Homo sapiens: one gene and its partners. The protein of the gene in region 2 purifies or fractionates together with the protein of the main gene of each other region. This does not show direct contact. Each region holds a gene or a part of one and is shown on either strand. Other genes may lie near its edges.

Evidence for each region.
Region 1: the proteins of REEP5 (region 2) and RNFT1 purify together in Homo sapiens (affinity purification with mass spectrometry; 2 studies listed by BioGRID and IntAct, with this or other methods). This does not show direct contact.
Region 3: the proteins of REEP5 (region 2) and MFN2 purify together in Homo sapiens (affinity purification with mass spectrometry; 2 studies listed by BioGRID and IntAct, with this or other methods). This does not show direct contact.
Region 4: the proteins of REEP5 (region 2) and SCAMP2 purify together in Homo sapiens (affinity purification with mass spectrometry; 2 studies listed by BioGRID and IntAct, with this or other methods). This does not show direct contact.

Annotation. Positions count from the first base shown.
Region 1 is NC_000017.11:59,958,241-59,961,740, reverse strand, and holds part of RNFT1 (E3 ubiquitin-protein ligase RNFT1), read left to right. Parts: intron 1-1,572; coding exon 1,573-1,673; intron 1,674-3,296; coding exon 3,297-3,450; intron 3,451-3,500. UniProt on the Homo sapiens protein: E3 ubiquitin-protein ligase that acts in the endoplasmic reticulum (ER)-associated degradation (ERAD) pathway, which targets misfolded proteins that accumulate in the endoplasmic reticulum (ER) for ubiquitination and subsequent proteasome-mediated degradation.
Region 2 is NC_000005.10:112,915,728-112,919,227, reverse strand, and holds part of REEP5 (receptor expression-enhancing protein 5), read left to right. Parts: intron 1-3,500. UniProt on the Homo sapiens protein: Plays an essential role in heart function and development by regulating the organization and function of the sarcoplasmic reticulum in cardiomyocytes.
Region 3 is NC_000001.11:11,983,444-11,986,943, forward strand, and holds part of MFN2 (mitofusin-2), read left to right. Parts: intron 1-3,500. UniProt on the Homo sapiens protein: Mitochondrial outer membrane GTPase that mediates mitochondrial clustering and fusion. Mitochondria are highly dynamic organelles, and their morphology is determined by the equilibrium between mitochondrial fusion and fission events.
Region 4 is NC_000015.10:74,849,366-74,852,865, reverse strand, and holds part of SCAMP2 (secretory carrier-associated membrane protein 2), read left to right. Parts: intron 1-679; coding exon 680-797; intron 798-1,384; coding exon 1,385-1,513; intron 1,514-2,192; coding exon 2,193-2,352; intron 2,353-3,500. UniProt on the Homo sapiens protein: Functions in post-Golgi recycling pathways. Acts as a recycling carrier to the cell surface.

The sequences.
Region 1 (3,500 bases), on a different chromosome or scaffold from region 2:
GCTGGGCGTGGTGGCGCTTGCCTGTAGTCCCAGCTACTTGGGAGGCTGAGGCAGGAGAATTGCTTGAACCCGGGAGGCAGAGGTTGCAGTGAGCCAAGATTGTGCCACTGCACTCCAGCCTGGCGACAGAGTGAGACTCCATCTCAAAAAAAAAAAGAGAGAAAATGAAACCCAAGGAATTTTTCCATAACATAAGTTACACGAGCCCGTCATATAAATCATTGGGAAAAAGAGGATGAGTTTCTAAAATTTCACCTTAAGGCAACTTTAAATGGCTATGTCTGTGTAAAGTATCATGCATTCTGACCTGGAAATTTATAGTTAAACCTATCAAACTAGAAAAATCTTAATGATTTAAAATTAGTAAAACTTCATTAAACTTGACTTTAAAAGTGAGATTACAGGCAAGGCACAGTGGCTCATGCCTGTAATCTCAGCACTTTGGGAGGCTGAGATGGGCAGATTGCTTGAGCCCAGGAATTGAAGACGAGCCTGGGCAACATGGCAAAACCCCATCTCTACAAAAAATACAAAAAATTAGCTGGGCGTGGTGGCACGTGCCTGTAATCTCTGCTATCTGGGAGGCTGAGGTGGGAGGATTGCCTGACCCCAGGTGGTTGGGGCTGCAGTGAGTTGTGATCATGCCACTGCACTCCAGTCTGGGTGAAAGAGTGAGACCCAGTCTCAAAAAAGTAAAAAAAAAAAAAGGGAGATTACAACTACTTGGGAGGCTGAGTTGGGAAGAATGCTTGAGCCTAGGAATTCTGAGCAATGTGTCGAGACCCCATATATTAAAAAAGTGAGATTAAAACATTAATTTATTAAATTCTTATAATCTGAGAATTTAAAAAATATAAACCTTGACAAGTGAGTCAAGGTTAAAATGCATTTTGAAATTTTCTTTTGTGGGTGGGTCCATTTTTTTTCTGAGACGGTGTTTTGCTCTGTCACCCGGGCTGGAGTGCAGTGGCGTGATCTTGGCTCACTGCAACCTCTGCCTCCTGGGTTCAAGTGATTCTCGTGCCTCAGCCTCCTGAGTAGCTGGGATTACAGGCACGTGCCACGGCGCCTGGCTAACTTTTGTACTTTTTTTAGTAGAGACAGGTTTCACCATGTTGGGCAGGCTGGTCACAAACTCCTGACCTCAAGCGATCCGCCGACCTTGGCCTCCCAAAGTGCTGGGATTACAAGTGTGAGCCACTGCCCCCGTCCTGGGTGGGTCCTTTATGTCAGCTTGTAGAAGACCTGGCTTCTTTTTTTTTTTTTTAATTTAATTTAATTTTCTTTTTTTTTTTTTTTTTTTGAGAGAAGACTTGGCTTCTTTGAAACATAGGTAATGTTTTTCATACAGTGAAGAAACTTGTATTTTAAACATTTGTTTAATATAAGAGTTCTGTTTGGTCACTAAAGTAGTATAAAACAGTAACTGTGATGATTATGTACAGTTTAACATATTCTATATTAAGATTTAGAAAAATATTCTAAGTTAATAGTCATTAAAGTAAAACAGTTTAATGATATTTAAAATTCTGGCAAAATCAAAGTAACATTATAAAATTGTTTATCTTTCAGGAAAGGTCCTCAAAGATTCAGTGTGCTTGGTTACTGGTATTCTTAGCAGGATCTTCTGTTCTTTTATATTACACCTTTCATTCTCAGTCACTTTATTACAGGTAATTAGAGGTCCAAATACACAATTACATTTTTAATGTAATCATATATTTCATAGCACTTTGTATCTTACTTCACATAGTACTTATTGTATTCAGTTCAGTTCAGTTTTTAACTTTCTCCTTTCATAAGCGAGAGCTTTTTTTTTTTTTTTCTTTTTGAGACGGAGTCTCACTCTCTCGCCCAGCCTGGAGTGCAGTGTCTTGATCTTGGCTCACTGCAACCTTTGCCTCTCAGGTTCAAGCAATTCTCCCGTCTAAGCCTCCTGAGTAGCTGGGATTACAGGCACACGCCACCACGCCTGGCAAATTTTTGTATTTTTAATAGAGACGGAGTTTCACCATGTTGGTCAGACCTCCTGACCTCGTGATCTGCCTGCCTCCACCTCCTAAAGTGCTGGGATTACAGGTGTGAGCCACTGCACCCAGCCTCATAAGTGAGAGCTTTAAGTGACTTACTCAGATTTTGTATCCCCAGTGCCTTGGCACATAACAGATGCTCAATAAATATTTAATTTTTTGATACCTGAGTTTTTGTTTACATATTTCGTATTTTTAAAGTACCATTAGGTTGTTATTATTGGTCGTTGTTTCTGAAAGTAAGAACACTTACTAAATGACAGTAGCTGATAAGTCTCCATGTCAAATGGGAGTATTCTGAATTTTCAGCTTTTATTAGAATATTAGAAGACCTGGTTTCACTGGAGTTGGAGAGATGGGCAAATCTGGGATATAGTTTGGAGGTGGAGCCAGTATCCCTCAGATGGACTGGATTGGATAGGTGGGTGGAGAGAAGCAAGAATGACCTCTGGGTTTTTAGTCTAAGCAGCTGGCTGGATGGTGGTGTCATTTCATTGGGTTGAGGAAGGAACTGATTTTGAGGAGAAAAATCAATAATTTTGTTTTGAACATGTTAAGTTTGAGAGGCTAAGTAGAATTGATAAGAAAGTGGTTCCAAATATATGTCATGAACTCAGGGTAGAGGTTAAGGCAATAAATTTTGGTATCAGGAGCATATGGTTGATATTTAAAAACCACAGGACTGGACAAAACTAACCCAGGAAAGAGAGTGTAGATAGAGAGCCCAGTACTGGACATGACCACAATTAGAAGAGAAACAGCAAAGGAGACTAAGAAGAAACCAGCAGTGAAATATGAGAAATAGAAAAGTGTTGTGTTAAAAGTCTAGAAAGAAAATTATTCAGGGAGGGAAGATGGAAAAAGAGAGTGACCTTGAAATTTAGCCATACAGAGGGAGTTGATGATCTTGACAAGCAATTCATTGAAAGGAAGAGATGGAATCCTGATTGGAATTGGTTAAGAAAAACACAGCAGATGTCTGGTATTGATGAGTTTTTTTCATTTACAGGCTAGAAAGGTGTCAACTATGACAAACCGTGAAGACTTTTTCCTTATTCTATGAAGGGAAGATCTAAAATCCAAACAGGTTTAAAAAGTCTCTTTAAGCAAAATGATCCTCCATTCCATTATTGTGAACTCTGACATCCTGCCAAACTCATATTTTTTACATATCAAAATAAAATATTTGTAGCAAATTAAAACCCTTTATTAATACTTTATCTTTGTATGTTGCTCTGATAAATTTTGATGTTTTTCTTTTGGTAGCTTAATTTTTTTAAATCCTACTTTGGACCATTTGAGCTTCTGGGAAGTATTTTGGATTGTTGGAATTACAGACTTCATTCTGAAATTCTTTTTCATGGGCTTAAAATGCCTTATTTTATTGGTGCCTTCTTTCATCATGCCTTTTAAATCTAAGGTAAGAAACTCACTTATGCTTTATTGGAGTGATGTTATCGAATCACATTA
Region 2 (3,500 bases):
ATTTAATACTAATACATTGGGTATTAGGTCCCAACATATGGATGTTGGGGGAACACAACATTCAGACCATAGCAGTCACCTTCATTTTAACTATTCTCCATACCTCTTGTAACTCTTATGCTCCCTAGCCAGAGTTATTTTTTAAAATACAGGTTCATCTATTTAGCAAAAATCAAATGCCAGTCACATGTGTGGCACTGTGGTAGCACTTTAGATATGGCAAGAAATAAGGTAGTCATACTCTCTGTCCTTGTTGAATGAGCAGTCTACCCAGGCAAGAAATAGGCAAAGTAGTGACCGTGTGGTAAGCCCTCTAAAGTAAATAAACAGTTCTGGTAGAGAAGACCTGAGGAATGAGAAGGGGCCAGCCAAGAGCAGAGCCAGGGAGAGGGAGAAGAGTGTGTCAGGCCCTGAGGCAGCACACAGCTTAGCTCTGTGTGAGCAAAGAGTGGTGGGGGAGGCACCAGAGAGGTGCAGGTGCCAGCAGGTAGGGTCAGTGGTAGAAGTGTGCATTTCATTCCAGATGGTGGTAGGGAGTTTGCATTTTCTGATTGCCTTGGATGGGTTTTAAATAGGGGGTGACATGATACGATTTATATTTTAAGGTCACTTTGGCTGCTGTGACCTCTGTAAGGAGTTCGCGATCTTGCCAAACTATTGCCAGTAATTTACTTCCTTCCTTTCTCACCTTTCAGCCTTTCTCTTGCTGTTTCCTCTCCTTGGGCCATCACAAGAAGGGGAGTAGTGTCAGTATTGGGTCAAGAGACTGCAGGATGCAAAGATGAAATTGGGAAAAGCTCACTTGGCTTCCTAGCTTTTCTCCCTTTGGACTCCCTTTGGAAGTCTGTGAGTGAAGCTCAGGTGCACCTGGCTCCTGGTCAGGGTCTGCTGCACGTTGGAGCATGTAGATGGTTGAAGACTTGCCCAGTGCTCACTGGGGAGCAACCAGTACCTTATTGTATACCCCTCTTCCTACTGGTTGTTCTTTCCGTGTGCATAATTTCCCTTTGAGCTCTTTGAGAACAGGGTCTTTCATCTCTGACTTCTAGTTTCTAGAATTTTTGGCCATCTTATATAGGCAATTCGGAATCTAATTCCAGCCTTCCTTTCATCAAGAACTGTTGACATAATTACCTTAATCTCCTTACTTCCCTCTTTTACTGATAACAGGAGGCAGACTACTGGAAATGTTTATTATAAAGATAGACCTCCCCCCATTGCTAAGATATAATTTAGATACTTATAAATTGTACACTTTTAAAGTATGCAGTTCAGTGGCTAGTATGTTCAGAGTTGTGTAACCATCACCACTGTCTAATTCCAAAACATTTTTATCACCCCAAAGGGAAACCATCACCAATCACTCCCTATTCCTCCTACCCAGCCCCTGGAAACCACTAATCTGCATTCTGTTTCTATGAGTTTGCCTATTCTGAGCATTTCATGTAGACGGAATCATACAATATATGGCCTTTAATGTCTGGTGCAGCCCTGCTTCTAATGGGATTGCACAAATAAGAGTCCTCTGGAGGGTGTATGCTGTGCTGCACCCTCATATGTGAGTAAGTCCTCCTGGTGCAGTCCCTCCAGGGTGGGCGCTAGTGAGCCAGGGCCCTAGTCCTGTACTTGCTCCTTTGTACAAATGGAATTGTGAGGCAAACTCAGACTTTATCTTCTATTTAAGGAAAGGGGAAGGTTTGCTTTCTGTCCTACCCAGTAACTTTTTTGCTTAAAATTCTATAAAAATGTCTATTACTTTTCCTCTTTTTATTTCATATTTTCCTTAAGACTTGGGCTGCCACCTTCCTGGGACTATCAGAGTTGGGCCTTAAAGATCAAACAGGTAGTCCAGTTCCTTTAGTTTTAAAATGACAATTCAGGGACAGAGAAAGGTGGAGTGTGTTTCCCAAGGTCACACAGAGGCCAGGCTTGGTCTGGAACTACACAGGAATGTAAAGCACATTTAGGCATATTTTAGTGCCAATGTTAGAAAGATTAAATATGTTTAGGGGGCGGGGCATGATGGCCCACATCTGTAATCTCAGCACTTTGGGGTGCTGAGGCAGAGGGATTGCTTGAGGCCAGGAGTTCAAGACGAGAGTCCAGCACTATATATTTAATCTTTAACAACACTTTTGAAATCTCATACCCAGTTCAGTAATGTGTCATTTTAGTTTCTGTGTGTCCTCACAAGCCCATTTTAAACTTTTGCTGCTGGTGTAAAGAGTTATATTGCATTTAGCTCTTTGTATGACTCCTGAAATCTGTGTAGCATTTTATTTAACAGATATGTACATATCTCTGTCTAAGTGCTTTGCAAATATAGCTCATTTAATCCTCAGAACAACCCTATTATGTAAGTGCTATGATTATTCCCATTTTTACAGATGAGGAAACACAGAAAGAGAATTTGAATAACTTGATCAAGGTCTCACAACTAGCAGATGATGAAACTGGTATTTAAATCCAAAGAATCTGGCTCCAAATTTCATGCTTTTAATGATTACGTTATGCTACCTCCCTTGTGGCTCTTTGAATGTCCCACAAACACAACATCACCTTATGTAGAGATGAAAATTAAAAAATGTAGGCCTTTCAAAAAAACAGTTGACCCTGTCAATACATTACCTTTGTGCAGTGTATTTTTCCTCTCAAATAAGGTACTGTCATCCCAAATCATATATCTGCACACATAGGCATTGACTGTGTTTTGTAGACATTAGTTAGAATATGTTACTAACAACTTTTCTTATCTGTTATGTAGCTTTGACTTATGACAGCAGAGGCTTGCTCTGTTTTACTAGCACAAGGCCACCTGAAAATGGCACACTGAACTGGATTTCCTAAGGGGATGCAGCGTTGCCTTTAGTTCTGTTTCAAGAGACAAGTATCTCAAGGGAAGATGTTTGGGGATGACCCCTATCGAGGTCAGATCAGAAAGGGATGGCAAGAAGGTTAATTTGAAGAAAAAAAACAATGAAAATATCTACAAGAGTTGTAACACAGTTAACCACAAGTAAAAGCAACAGCATCCTCTTAGCTAAATGATGCTCAGCACACAAAGGGAGGACACATTCTGGGGAACACAAGTTAAAAAGAGTTGCAGTCTACTTGCTTAAGGTGTGCATTGACAGACTCCTAAAGAGGTTTATTACCCAGAGGAGACTTTGAGAAAGTCACCGTGGTGTGAATGACAGTTGTGAACAGACACTTTCTGTTTTGCAGCTAGTCACTGGAAGCAGAGCTGTTTCCTTAACAGTACTGGAGGATGTGTATTTGTAGTTCTCTTCTTGGACTCATTAGTAGGGGGTGTATTTGTTTTCTTGTGGGTTTTTTTTTTTTTTTTTAAATTGTAATTATGTTTTGTTCTTTTTTACTCATGAGAACTTCAGAGCAGATGTATTTTCTACTGAGCTGCCTATGTTCCCATTACACTAGCTTTTCTCTCTGGATCTATATGTGCTTTGTTAAAGTGTTGAAGAGCAGAGCAATGCATGCCT
Region 3 (3,500 bases), on a different chromosome or scaffold from region 2:
TCTGTGGACCACGCTTTGGGAAGTGCTGCCAGAAACTATCCAAAACAGTAATCTCCAGAGCACTTATGAGGCAGTCACAGCTTGAAGTGTGACGCTTAGTGTGTCACTGATGTTGGAGCTGGGCTCTCAGGCTATGCTTGCAGGATGGTCCCCACGTGCCTGTGGCAAGGTCTGTGGTGAAGCAGAGATTATCAAGGCTTTCCAGAGGCAGAGGAGGAACCCAGCTGCCCTGCATCACCCTGGAGGAGTAGGGAGTCAGCAGTCAAAGCCTTGAGATAATTGGGGAACACAGGATGTGATAAAAACCAGAAGTCTGTGATGTTGTTTGTTCTCTATGAGGCATCAGAGGAGGCTTCATGGAGCGGGTGACACTTGAGTTGGGTCTAGAAGGACAGTAGGAGTATGCCAAATGGGTGGAAAAGGAAGGAGGATTCCAGGCAGAAAGCAGCTCATGCAACACAGATGTGGAATCTCAGCTTGCAAGTTAGCAGAGCCAGATAAATCAGGCAGAGTTTGGAGGGGTTGACAGTAGGTTTTACGCCAGGGGTTTGGATGCAGCTGCAGGCTGGGTATTAGTGAGAGCAGGGAGGCTCCTGGACCGGCTGAACTCCCAGCAGACCTTGTAACCTGGAGCTCCCAAGCTTCTACTGGTGTACACGCTGTCGAGTCTTGCAGTTAGTGAGCACTAATGCTTTTGGTTTTATATCTCCTGGGCTTGCAAACATTGACCAGAACTTAAAAGCACCTGCTTCTGATGGCAGGGAACTTGCTTCCTGCAGCAAGTCACTTCTGGAGTGGGGTATCGCTGATCCTTCCCCAGCTGACCTGTTTATTTGATCTCCGTGATAGCGGGTAAGGGAGTGGTGTGTGTGGTGTGAGTTGGCGGAGTTGCCTCTGCCCTCCCTGAAGGCTGGGTGTTCATGGAGAGAGTCTTGTGATCTTGCTGGTAGAGTTTGTTGTTATTGTTTTATAACATGTAAAGCTGCCTTTAGCTCTTACTGTAGTGAAGCATGTTGCTTGCGTCATCAACTTTAGTCTTCTCACAGTTTAGATGGTATTGTGGTATTAGGATATTGGTTTTCATCCACGGATCCAGGCTCATAACTCCTATCCACAGCCCTTGTTATGGTTTTTTGATATAATGTTAGATGTGTTAGGCCTCAGGGGCAGGCCTCTGACCTTCTGCTCTCCTTCCACCCTAATCTTTCCCCACCTGATTGTGGGCCTTAAAACCCTCCCCTGAGAGGGGTGGACCCTGTATCCTGGGGGAAGGAATGCTGATGTCATGAAGCTTCCATAAAAATCCAAGAGGACAGAGTTCAGGGAGCTTGTGGATAGCTGAACACACGGAGGTTCCTAGAGAGAGGCCTGCTCAGGGAGGGCACAGAAACTACACGCCTCTTCCCCCATACCTCGCCCTAAGCGTCTCCTTATCTGTATCCTTTGCGATATCCCTCATAATAACCTGGTAAACGTAAGTAAGTGTTTCCCTGGGCTAGGTAGGCTGCTCCATCAAATTAATTGAACTCAAAGAGGGGGTCATGGGAACCCCAGCCTGAAGCCAGTCGGTGAGAAATTCTGGAGGCCCAGACTTGCAACTGGTATGTTTGAGGGGTGGTGGTGGAGAGGCGGGGCAGTCCTGGGGACTGAGCCCTCAACCTGTGGGATCTGACACTCTCTCCAGGTAGACAGCATGGGAACTGAATGAGAGGATACCCAGCTGCTGTCCGCTGGTTGGTGTGTGGGGAAGAAACCCCCTCACATTTGGTCACAGAAGTCTCTTGTGTTGATGATTATGGTGTGAGAGTAGAGAAAAAAGATAATTTGAGACAGTTTCTCTCTCCAGTAGGTGTCTTGTTTGTTGTACACATGAAGAAACCAAGGTTCTGTGATGAAATAACTTGCTTAAGTTTAAGCAGCCCAGAAATAATGTAGTCACAATTTGAACCCAGCTCTGCCTGATTACAAAACCTGTCATAGGTAGTGCTATATCATGCCCCATCCTTGATCCCTTTTTTTTTTTTTTTTTTTTTTTTTTTAAAGAGAGAGACTTCGCTCTGTCACCCAGGCTGGAGTACAGTGGCGAGATCTTGGCTCACTGCAAATTCTACCTCCCAGGTTCAAGTGATTCTCCTGCCTTGGCCTCTGGAGTAGCTGGGACTACAGGCATGCGCCACCACACCCAGCTAATTTTTTGTATTTTTCATAGAGACGGGGTTTCACCATGTTGGCTAGACTGGTCTTGAACTCCTGACCTCAGGTGAGCTGCCTGCCTCGGCCTCCCAAAGTGCTGGGATTACAGGCATGAGCCACCGTGCCTGACCCCTGATCCCTTTTCTATTCCTTTTGGATGGCTTTCCTCTTGTGCCTGCCACATCCCCTCTTTCTCGAACAGTCTGATCTGCCAGGCCATGGCAAGCCTCATTTCAGCGCACTCTCCTTTGCTGCTTTGGAAGAGTGAGAGTAGCATTTTCTTTGCAGTTTCCTTTCTCAGAGCTGTACTGTCTTTAAGCCCTGGACATATGGCTTCCATGCTGAGAAAACATCTCTCATAGCTGTGGCGTCATGCTGAGGAGGAATGTAGAAACGGAAGTGGGGTCACTTCCTTCCCTTGTCTCCAGAGGAATCATTAACATTGCACAAGAACTTGTTGGTTTGGGCACACATGTGGGTCCCTATCCCGCTTTGGGTCGGTCTGTCTTCTGCCCACTCTTTGGGATGGTTAGTTACTAAAAGTCCGTTTTGGCATTTGGTCTTCATGTACCTCTTCCGGGTGTTCTTTCTGCTTTTCAGGACCTTGTGCAACATACTTTGGCCCCATTTGGAAGTTTTTCACGTGTGCTTGCTGGGGAGCAACACCTCATTTCCAATCTAGAGAGAGTGAGCTTACTGCTGGGTGGAGAACTGAGCAGTAAGATTAGGGTGGCTGGGGAGGCAGTGACAGACCCAGGCACAGTCAGCTGTGCACACACCCCCTCATCCAGGAGGGCCTTTGCCCTTTGACTTCCTGGGATTGGTGGGCTCTGCTCAAGAAGTAGCTTTCGCCGTGGTGGGAACTCTGAGGGACCTGGCAGGGGTCCACTTTTGGGGTCGGAATTCCCAGTCTTACCCTGGGCACTCCTTCTGGTGTGTACGCCTCTTTTTGATCTTTTTTTTTTTTTTTTTGAGATGGAGTCTTGCTCTATTGCTCAGGCTGGAGTGCAATGGCGCGATCTTAGCTCACTGCAACTTCCAGCTCCCAGGTTCAAGCAATTCTCGTGCCTCAGCCTCCCGAGTAGCTGGGATTACAGGTGCCTGCCACCATGCCTGGCTAATTTTTGTATTTTTAGCAGAGAAGGGGTTTCACCATGTTGGCCAGGCTGGTCTCAAGTGATCCACCCGCCTGGGCCTCCCAAAGTGCAGGGATTATAGGTGTGAGCCACCATGCCCAGCCTCTTTTGACCTTTGACCAAAGACCTCTAGGACTTTGGAGTCAAGTCTCATGACCTCTAAAATGTTGT
Region 4 (3,500 bases), on a different chromosome or scaffold from region 2:
ACTCAGAGGCTCTACCCCGCCTGGAGAGGAGATAAGTGTGGACTCTGCATGCCACTAAAGCCAGGCAGGGCAGGGCCACACCTAAGGGGCTGTCCTGGGGTGTAGCCAATTGCAGTTTAGGGGGACCTCAGGAGGCAGCTCCTGGGGGCAGGCCATGGGGCAGGGTGCTTGTACAGATCCTGAGGCTCAGGCACACGCCATCTGCCTTCACGTGTCTCCCCTTTCCACTCACTGTTAGCAGGCTTGCACTGTTTTCCTTCTCACACATCCACCAGGCTCTTCAAATGAGGCTTGGGTCTGTGGGTTTCTTATTATAGTTTAGTTTCTTGTGAGGTCTTTTTCCCAAAGGTCACAATCACTGAGCGCTGCCTTGACCCAGTATGGGGAAGAGGTGGAGAAGCCAATGGGGGTAGTTTTCCCAACTCAAGCTTAGGGATGAGGGGAGAGGACAGCTTAGTCATGGCCAAGGGGTCAGGAAGGTGTGGGGGCAGTGGAAGACAGGTTGGCCTCTCTAAGGTGGTCTCTGGTACCTAAGACACTCTGTGGGGCGGGGACTGCTTCTGGGACTCCTTGATGGCTGTCCCTGCCTGGGGCAAGGCCTCTCTGCCTGCCTACCCAGGCTGACACTGTTTCTGTTTGTTGTGTCTGGCTGTCCCTGTACCTCCCCTGTTCTCTCCAGGCCGTGGTGTCTGCAGCCCAGGCAGGCCTGCTCCGGCAGCAGGAAGAACTGGACAGGAAAGCTGCCGAGCTGGAACGCAAGGAGCGGGAGCTGCAGAACACTGTAGCCAACTTGCATGGTAAGGGAGGCTGCTGGGGCCTGGGGCTGCCCTGCCTGGCATAGAAGAGTGTCCTGAAACCTGTGCGGAGGGCCTCCCAGCATTCACCCTGAGCTGCCTTAGAGTTTTGTGGGGCTCTTCTCATCACAGGATGCTGGTCCTGGGAAGAGCAGTAAGTTGCAAGTCAGGAGACCTGCAGTGTAGTTGTAATGGCTGTAGATTACTTCTGCACTCCTTCCTAGCTCTCAAATTCCTTGATTCTTTGATAGCATAGGGGCTTTGGTCCCACAATTCCTTGCTAATGATGATGAACTGAGTTCTCACACTTATGGGCTGCTTGTTAATAAAAATAATCACTTAGGCCATTTAGCTGTCTGTATTTCCCAGTGCATTTGGGGTCTTTTATCTCCATGTGAGCTTGTTGGTATCTCTTTGGGTTCCATTATCCTGTTCTGTCCCACTCCATGCTCCATGCAGACTCCAAGCCCCGCTTGCTGGAGCCCCTCTGGGAACCCTGGTTTGGCCCATACACTATGCTGGCGTGCATGCACCTTGATGCCCCTTCTGAGGCTGGGCCCTTACCTCGTCACTCTTTTTGCCCTACCCAGTGAGACAGAACAACTGGCCCCCTCTGCCCTCGTGGTGCCCTGTGAAGCCCTGCTTCTATCAGGATTTCTCCACAGAGATCCCTGCCGACTACCAGCGGATATGCAAGATGCTCTACTATCTGTGGATGTGTGAGTCCCACTCCTGCCTTCCAAGCGCAAGGGCGAATTGGGTGTGACTTGAGAGCCCCATCTTGGTCCTGGCTGCTCCTCCCTGGTATACAGGCTTTCAGCAGACTCCAGCCTTCCTCAGTGCCTGGGCTGGGTTGGGGAGATGCCTCTGCCCACAGGCTGCCCCCTGTCTGGAAACCTCCTTGAAAGGGGCAGTCCAGACCACCGATCAGGGAGGGTGGGACTAACTAGAGGCTTCCAAGTTCCTTCAGAGCTCACTGCACTAAAAGGCCCTCCTTAGGTGAAGGCCTTCCCTGCCCACAGGCCTGTGAACTCTGAGGGGTGAGGAAGGAGACTCCCCCTGCAGCTCCATCAGGGGCCATCCAGGGCCAGGGAAAAGCATTGCTAAGAGAAAGACTTCCTTCCCCAAGGACCAGCCCTGGGTCTGCATCCTCCCTCCACACCCCTCAGATACCCGGGCTGTCCCATCACCTCTCAGGAACGTAGTTTGATCCCTGGTTTTGAGGTCCCAGAAAACCAGGATATGGGAACTATCCCTGCCTAGGTACAGAGCGGGCTCCTCTGTTTCAGCAGCTGCCTTCGCAGCATGAACCTCACCTCTCCTAGGGAGTGGCTGCCACATTGGAGCCCCTCAGCCACTGTGGCACAAGTCATAACTCTGTCCTGTCCCCTTCCCCAGTGCATTCAGTGACTCTGTTTCTGAACCTGCTTGCCTGCCTGGCCTGGTTCTCGGGCAACAGCTCCAAGGGAGTGGACTTTGGCCTCTCCATCCTGTGGTTTCTGATCTTCACTCCCTGTGCCTTCCTTTGTTGGTACCGACCCATCTATAAGGCCTTTAGGTGAGTGAGGCCGGGGCAAGGGGTGAGACTTTATGGCTGGCATCCCAGGTAGCAGGCTAAGGGCTATAGGCCCTGGGACCCCATCTGAGTCTTAGAGCAGAATAGAATGTAGGGAAATCCACTTTCCCTACATTCTGTTCCTCTGTTCCCACCCAGAGCAGAGATTGGGGGCCCCGTTCCTCAGTTTCTGTACCTGAGGTCTGCTCTGGGCCCTGTCCTTGGACCAGGCACAGGAGACCTAGAGAAGGGACCTCCCATCCCACTGCTCCCAGTCTGGCTGATGCCGTTACTGGGAAGAGGGAGGGGACGCTCTTTGGGAACTCCCTTCTGAGGCTCTAAGGTGTGCTTCTCTGGTAGTATCAGATGAGTGCTCTCCAGGGCTCTTTCTCCATGACTATTGATGCTTCCCAATAAAGACTGCCAACACCTAAGCTAGATACTGGGAACATAGCTGGATACACCTTACAGACCCCCAGGGGTTCTGGAATTGTACCTCAGGGTTTATGCTTTCAGGGCTGGGAGCCCAGCAGGCCCTGGGAAGAGGGATTAGGGTAGTGGCTGAACCATCCCTGTACCACTGGAGGCCCTGAACCCTCACTGTGATCTAGCCCTCAAGGACACAGAGATGGAAGTCCTCAGCTCGTGAGAGAGTTTTGTCTGGTGTCCCCTGTTTCCCAAATATTTTTTTCTTCCAGTCAGATGTACAGGTTTTGTTTTTTTCTCATTGTTCTTTGTTACCACGTATCCTCAAGTTCTATTGTTTTTGTTTTGAGAGGGAGTCTCGCTCTGTCACCCAGGCTGGAGTGCAATGATGCGATCTCGGCTCACTGCAACCTCCTCCTCCTGGGTTCAAATGATTCTCCTGCCTCAGCCTCCGGAGTAGCTGGGCTTACAGGCACACACAATCACACCTGGCTAATTTTTGTATTTTTAGTAGCGATGGGGTTTCCCCATGTTGGCCAGGCTGGTCTTGAACTTGTGACCTCAAGTGATCCACCTGTCTCGGCCTCCCAAAGTGCTGGGATTACGAGTGTGAACCACCGTGCCCAGCCTGTTTTGTTTTTTTGAGACAGAATCTCAGTCTGTTACCCAGGCTGGAGTGCAATGGCGCAGTCTCGGCTCACTGCAACCTCCGCCTCCCAGGTTCA